Homo sapiens: one gene and its partner. The protein of the gene in region 1 purifies or fractionates together with the protein of each later gene. This does not show direct contact. Each region holds a gene or a part of one and is shown in the gene's direction. Other genes may lie near its edges.

Evidence for each region. Proteins that work in one complex are often made in the same cells at the same time.
Region 2: the proteins of ANTXR2 (region 1) and SPTBN4 purify together in Homo sapiens (affinity purification with mass spectrometry; one large-scale study listed by BioGRID and IntAct). This does not show direct contact.

The regions. Positions count from the first base shown.
Region 1 is NC_000004.12:79,975,370-79,979,302, reverse strand, and holds part of ANTXR2 (anthrax toxin receptor 2 isoform 1 precursor), read left to right. Parts: intron 1-1,128; coding exon 1,129-1,296; intron 1,297-1,601; coding exon 1,602-1,682; coding exon of another isoform or gene 1,683-1,724; exon of another isoform or gene 1,725-1,777; intron 1,778-3,933.
Region 2 is NC_000019.10:40,473,345-40,477,277, forward strand, and holds part of SPTBN4 (spectrin beta chain, non-erythrocytic 4), read left to right. Parts: intron 1-3,933.

The DNA.
Region 1 (3,933 bases):
GATGTCCTTGGTTTTTGTAGGGCTTTCCACTACTCCTGGTTGGACAAGCTCTTCTCCAGGGGCTGCATCCTATTTTTACATGCCCAGTTTGACTCAAATTTAGCTCTTAATTTCTGTCTATTGAAAAATACAACAATCATTTGCTCTTAATTTCTGTCTATTGAAAAATAAAACAATCATTTGATCTTATGGTTTTTCAATGTCAAGAATTTTCAGAGGAGGAAATTTGCTATAATTTGTGGAATTCTCTAGGGTTCCTGAACTTTTCTTTTCAAAGCAGTCTTTTCAGATTTGACCTCCTCAATGAAAAAAATCATATGCCACACAACCATACTCAGATGAGCTTGGGAACTAAAGGCTGAACACTATATTACTTAGAACTATAAAAGTAAAGAAAACTCATATATAATTATTTTACTTTCAAAAACTAAATGTTCAGATCATACTTTTTGCCTTAATCAGATGTGATGAAAAGTTTGGAAGAAGCAACTCTTTTGTATAAAATACATTTGTAAAATTCTAACCAATTGGAAACTTATTAACCCATTTCAATCCATGTTCGAATCCCTGCCCTGTCACTTACTAGCTGGCTTTGGGCATATCACTTAACCTCCCTGTGCCTCATCTGGAAAGAAGAAAATAGAGTCTCTATCTCACTGCATTTTTGTATGGATTAAATGCAGACTGACACATAGTAATCACTCAGTAAATGCTAACTATCGTCATTTTCATATATTTCTTCCAGTGTCATCACTACATATGGGTATGTGTTTAGCTAGCAGGGGAACAAACCAAATTAGAGAACAAAATTACACACTGTCATGCATTTCATATGTAAACCACAAATGGACTCTTTATTTAAAACTATGGAAAAATGGTTGCTTCAAATTTAGTTGGCTCCAGATTTTTTTACAAAGGGTTTTTTTTTTTTTTGGATCTTAATATTAAATACAGTCAGGAGTGGTGAGAAACCTATTTAGCCTCTGAAGAGGAGAAATTAGGAATTAGGATACCTGCTCATCTTCTTTTTCACTCTGAGATGTGAACTAAAGGACCATAGGCTCAATAAGAGCCTGTTCCTCTAGGACACTTTATGTCTGATAACAGTACTCTCCCTTTGTTTTACAGGTTCGTTGGGGTGATAAAGGATCTACTGAGGAAGGTGCAAGGCTAGAGAAAGCCAAAAATGCTGTGGTGAAGATTCCTGAAGAAACAGAGGAACCCATCAGGCCTAGACCACCTCGACCCAAACCCACACACCAGCCTCCTCAGACAAAATGGTACACCCCAATTAAGGTATGTGTCCAGATTTTGTGTAATTTAACTCAAAACTTCTGGAGACATTGTAACTTTTTTTGTACCACATCCCCCCAGCTACTTGAAAGAGGGTAGATGAAATTGCAGATATTCATTGTACACTCTTAACAGCTGAATACTTTCTTGGCAATAAGAACCTCTAGGTTTTTATTACTTATTAGTTTACCTTATGAAAGAAATGAGGGTAAAGAAGATTTTACTTTCTTCGTTTTATGTCTTCATTTATTCAGTACATAGAGATTGAGTACATTCTCTGGGAATTCACAAATCTCATTTTCCCTTAGGGTCGTCTTGATGCTCTCTGGGCTTTGTTGAGGCGGCAGTATGACCGGGTTTCTTTGATGCGACCTCAGGAAGGAGATGAGGTTTGTATATGGGAATGTATTGAGAAAGAGCTAACTGCTTGAGTCAGTATAATGGAGGCAGGGAAATAGTAATAAAAAATGATTTTAAAGCCCTATTGCACTTGAGGAAGGAAATACTGTCAAGTGTAGATTTCTATTACATAGAATTGTCTATAAATTACCTATTGTTAGAATGCATCTTCAAACTACATTTTTACACCATTCCCTTTTCAAGAAATTCTTTACAATTCTGGTCATTTGTACACATACTTTAATAAGCACAATCATTGCATCAGCCCTTGACTTTGAAGACAAAATGTTCCAACAGACTGGGAGTTAGTAGCTGAAGTCCTTCTCTAGCATTTAGTAGCATTTAGTAGCAATAAGGCCTAGGGCAAAGGCCTCAGAATCTGTTTTATAGATATAAATATGTTCCCTGCCTTCAACAGTTGATGTAATCGAATTTCTTGACTATTACGTAAAAGTGTCTTTAAAGTTATAAAGCATTATAAAAATCTGTGATAGTGATAAACACACACACATACACACATATGGATATGTATATATTTTTTCCCCACCAGGGAAGCCTGTCTGAGGCTATATTTTTGTTTTGGAAATATGGCTACAATTACTCTAGTTTTGTAATTTCAGTAATATAGTAGTACTATTTCCCATTGTATTGATGTAAGAAAAATTGATTAAAACCTTTTCATATGTAACAATGGATAGGTTTGGTTCAGAGACAGTACAGTTCATAATAGTAGTGATGCAGGGCAGGTGAGCCCTAAAATTGAAGGTTAGCCTGGGAGAGTTCTTAACTTCATCTAAGAAGGAATCTGATGCAGGGCAGGAAGGCTCCCAAATTGGAGCTTAGCCCAGGAAGGTTCCTGGCTTCATCCAGAAAAGAATTCAAGGGTAAGCCAGAGGTGTTAGCAACTTTTGTTGAAGCGACAGTGCATAGCAGCAGCAGAGGTACTACTCCCTGTGGAGCAGGGCTACCCTATAGGCATCGTGCTCAGAGGAGCAGCTCAGAGGCAGTTCTGTAGTCATATTGATACCCACTTTTAATTATATGAAAATTAAGGGGTGGATCATGCAGACATTTCTAGAAAAGGTGTGACAACTTCCGGGTCATCGGGTCATTGTCATGGAAAGTGGTGGTAACTTCTGGGTGTTGCCATGGCAATGGCAAACTGACATGGCACCCTGGTCAGTGTGTCTTATGGGAAAGTGTTTTTGCCCCATCCCTGTTTTAGTTAATCATCAATTAGGTCTGGTGTCCAAGCCTCACCTCCAGAATCCAGTACTGCCTCCTACCTCATTAGAATTGTTTTCACTGTGTGTCAACATGATCATTCCTCTGTTTTAACAAGGGAATAAACTTAATGAACTTCAACTTCAGGGGATTTTTTTTTTAAATGCGATTTGAGGGCCGGGCGCGGTGGCTCACGCCTGTAATCCCAGCACTTTGGGAAGCCGAGGCGGGCGGATCACGAGGTCAGGAGATCGAGACCATCCTGGCTAACATGGAGAAACCCCGTCTCTACTAAAAATAAAAAAAATTAGCAGGGCGTGGTGGCGGGCGCCTGTAGTCCCAGCTACTCGCGAGGCTGAGGCAGGAGAATGGCGTGAACCTGGGAGGCGGAGCTTGCAGTGAGCCGAGATCTTGCCACTGCACTCCAGCCTGGGCGACAGAGAGAGACTACGTCTCAAAAAAAAAAAAAAAAGTGTAATTTGAGAAAATTTATTCCTGGAATTTTCCCCAACAGATCATCATTTACTGTTTGCTAAGACCATAAGTAGAGAGAACTAGTTGGTTTATAAAGCAGTCTCTGTCATGATCCAATCACTGTGGTTCTTCATAATGACATTTGTATCTTTTTAAATTCATCTGTGATCTGGAGTTCTGTTCTGGAACAACATGTACTAACTCTTCTTCCTCTTCTACATGCTAGACTTTAACTTCATGTATTTTAAAATTGTTTTCATGCATCATCTTAGTTTTTATTCCCCAGGTTAGACACTAGTTTATTTGTTCAATAATTTTCACCTTATTAAGTGCTGGGTATTGAGCTAACATTGAATATATACTAGCCAATAAAAACAGACAGTGGTCTCAGTTCTCTTGCTAATGCTTTATATTTTCTTTTAACTGTCATGATTGTAATTTAGTTTATAGTCTTTCATTATTCCTATTAATTTTGATTCAATTCAATAATTTTTGGATTATGAATATGTAAAAGCAATGGCATCAAGTAATATCAAAGGGTAG
Region 2 (3,933 bases), on another chromosome or scaffold:
TGGCCTGGTGTTTTTTTTTTTTTTTTTTTTGAGACGGAGTTTCGCTCTTGTTGCCCAGGCTGGAGTGCAGTGGCGCGATCTCGGCTCACCGCAACCTCCACCTCCCAGGTTCAAGCGATTCTCCTGCCTCAGCCTCCCTAGTAGCTGGGATTACAGGCATGTGCCACCACGCCCAGCTAATTTTGTATTTTTACTAGAGACGGGGTTTCTCCATGTTGGTCAGGCTGGTCTCGAACTCCCAACCTCAGGTGATCCACATGTCTCGGCCTCCCAAAGTGCTGAGATTACAGGCATGAGCCACGGCACCCGGCCTGTTTTAATTAAATTTAAATAGCCACATGTGGCTTGTGACTGCTGTATAGGTCAGCACAGCCTTAGAGCCTTAGAAATGTACAGTCCCAGAATGGTGGGACTCTGTAAGCATATTCCCTTAGAATCCCGAAATGCAGAGCCATCAGATCCTTGGAACTTGAAATGTCTAAGAGATTCTTAGACCTCTTGAAATGAAGACCTCTGGCCTGGCGCGGTGGCTCACGCCTGTAATCCCAGCACTTTGGGAGGCAAAGGTGGACAGATCTCTTGAGTGCAGGAGTTCGAGACCATGTTCGCCAACATAGTGAAACCCTGTCTCTACTAAAAATAAAAATAAAAAAAAAAATTAGCCAGGCGTGGTGGCATGCATCTGTAGTTCCAGCTATTTGGGAGGCTGAGGTGGGAGGATGGCCTGAGACTGTGAGGTGGAGATTGCAGTGAGTCAAGATCGCGCCACTGCACTCCAGCCCCAGCAGTAAAGCAAGAACCTATCTCAAAAAAAAAAAAAAAAAAAAAAAAAAAAGAGCTTTGGAAATGTGAAACGTTATCATCACAGACCTAAGAAATTTTAGTCATTGTTCCCTAGGATCATAGGCCCTTAGAAACTGAAACTGTAATACACAGGAACCTTTGGGACTTGATAATACTAAACCTTTGGAGTTTCCAATTAGAAATGTGGATCTTGAGAAATCTGACATAGAGTGACCAAAACCTTCCTGCTTTTACCACCGAAACTCTCAGCCTTGGGCCAACCAGTACAGTGGGTCACCCTACCATTTTTTTTTTTTTTTTGAGTCAGGGTCTCACTCTTCACCCAGGCTGGAGTGCAGTGGTGTGATCATGGCTCACTGCAGCCTTGAACTCCTGGACTCAAGTGATCCTCCCACCTCAGCCTCCTGAATAGCTGGAACTACAGGCATGCGCCACCATGCCTGGCTAATTAAAAATAATTTTTTTTTTTGGCGAAGCATGGTGGCGGATGCCTGTAATCCCAGCACTTTGGGAGGCTGAGGCGGATGGATCACTTGAGATCAGGAGTTTGAGACCAGCCTGACCAATATGGTGACACTACTAAAAATACAAAAATTAGATGGGTGTGGTGGTGGGCACCTGTAATCTCAGCTACCCAGGAGGCTGAGGCAGGAGAATCACTTGAACCCGGGAGATGGGGGTTTCAGTGAGCTGAGATCACACCATTTCAATCCATCCTAAGTGACAAGAGCTTAACTCCGTCTCAAAACAAAACAAAAAAATTTTTTTGTAAGATGGGGTCTTGCTATGTTGCCCAGGCTGGTGTGGAACTCCTGGGCTAAAATAACCCTCCCACCTCGGCCTCCGAAAGTGCTTTGATTACAGGGGTAAGCCAGAGTGCCTAGTAGTCACCCTACTTTGATGTATCAGAACAATATTAGCAAAGACCAGAGAACTTTATAGTTATAGAAAGACCTTAGACCTTTAGAACTGTAGACCCTTGAACCTTAGTACTTAGTATTCATAGAGGTCTGGAACCTTAGAAGTGTTTAATCATCAGCATTAAAACTGGCAAAGACCCTGAGGAGCCTCAGAGATATGGAACGTCATAATCATAAGCCTTTAAAACATGACACCCTAGCACCTTTGACCCTTGGGACCTTAACATCTTAGAAACACGGAGCGCTAGAATCATAAAATATAGATGATCATAATCATGAATTCTTAAAACCCAAAGGTCAGAATCAGTTCCCTCCAAATCTTAGAACTTTAGTAACTCAGCAGTTTATAATCACAAGATGGATCTCTGATACTAAGATTTTTGGAACTTTATTTATTTATTTATTTATTTGAGGTGGAGTCTCACTCTGTTGCCCAGGCTGGAGTGCAGTGGCGCAATGTCAGCTCACTGCAACCTCCACCTCCCAGGTTCATGAGATTCTCCCGCCTCGGGAGTCCCGAGTAGCTGGGACTACAGGCCCGCACCACCATGCCTGGCTAATTTTTGTATTTTTAATTGAGGCGGGGTTTCACCATGATGGCCAGGCTGGTCTTGAACTCCTGGGCTCGGGCAATCTGCCCACCTTGGCCTCCCAAAATGCTAGGATTACAGGCATGAGCCATGGCGCTGGCTCAAGAAACCTGGCTGATCTAGAAACCTGTAGTCCCAGCACTTTGAGAGGCCGAGGCGGGCGGATCGCTTGAGCCCAGGAGTTCGAGACCAGCCTGGCCAACATGGTGAAACCCCGTCTCTACTAAAAATATAAACATTAGCCAGGTGTGGTGGCGCATGCCTGTAGTTCCAGCTAGTCAACAGGCTGAGGTGGGAGAATCTCCTGAGCCCGGGAAGCAGAGGTTGCAGTGAGCCGAGATTGTGCCACTGCACTCCAGCCTGGGCAACAGGTTGAGACCCTGTCTCAAAACAATAAGAAACCTGGTTAGGCGCGGTAGCTCACGCCTATAATCCCAGCGCTTTGGGAGGCCAAGGTGGGGGGATCACTGGAGGTTGGGTGTTTGAGACCAGCCTGGCCAGCACGGCAAAACCCTGTCTCTATTAAAAATACAAAAATTAGCTGGGTGTGGTGGCGCGTGCCTCTAATCCCAGCTACTCAGGAGGATGAGGCAGGAGAATCGCCTGAACCTCAGAGGCGGAGGTTGCAGTGAGCCTAGATCGTGCCATTGTACTCCAGCCTGGGCGTCAATAGCAAAACTCTGTCTCAAAAAAAAAAAAAAAAAAGAGAGAGAGAGAGAAATCTGTATATGCCACAAAGTATGAACCAGATTCAACTGGTGGATTGCCAGCTTTGTCTGATCTAGAAACCTAGACTGATGAAAACATACACTCATGGAAACTTACAGTCATACTTTTAGAGCCTTAGAACCTTAAAAAGGTAGGAACATATCAACTTAGAATTCTAGAATTTACTAATTTAGTGTAAGTGAGTTTGTTTTTAGTTTTGTTTGTTTGTTTTTGTTTTTGAGAAGGAGTCTTGCTCTGTCGCCCAGGCTGGAGGGCAGTGACACTATCTCGGCTCACTGCAAGCTCCGCCTCCTGGGTTCATGCCATTCTCCTGCCTCAGCCTCCCGAGTAGCTAGGACTACAGGCGCCTGCCACCATGCCCCGCTAATTTTTTGTATTTTTAGCAGAGATGGGGTTTCACTGTGTTAGCCAGGATGGTTTTGATCTCCTGACCGCGTGATCTGCCCGCCTTGGCCTCCCAAAGTGCTGGAATTACAGGCATGAGCCACCGCGCCCGTCCTGTTTTTAGTTTTTGTTTGTTTTTTGAGGAGGAGGGGGTCTCTCCATGTTGCCTAGACAGGTCTCAAACTCCCGGTGTCAACTCATCCTTCTGAGTAGCTGGGATTACAGATGTGTACCACCACTCCCAGCTGTAGAATTTATTATTATTATTATTATTATTATCATTATCATTATTATTATTTGGACTGCTGCCAGGCTGGAGTGTGGTGATAAAAATCATAGCTCACTACAACCTCCAACTCCTGGGCTTGAGCAATCCTCCCACCGTAGCCTCCCAAGTAGCTGAGACTACAGGCATGCACCATCATGCCCAGCTAATTTTCTTATTATTTTATTTTTTTATAGAGACAGGGTCTCGCAATATTTTCCAGGCTGAACTTGAACTCCTG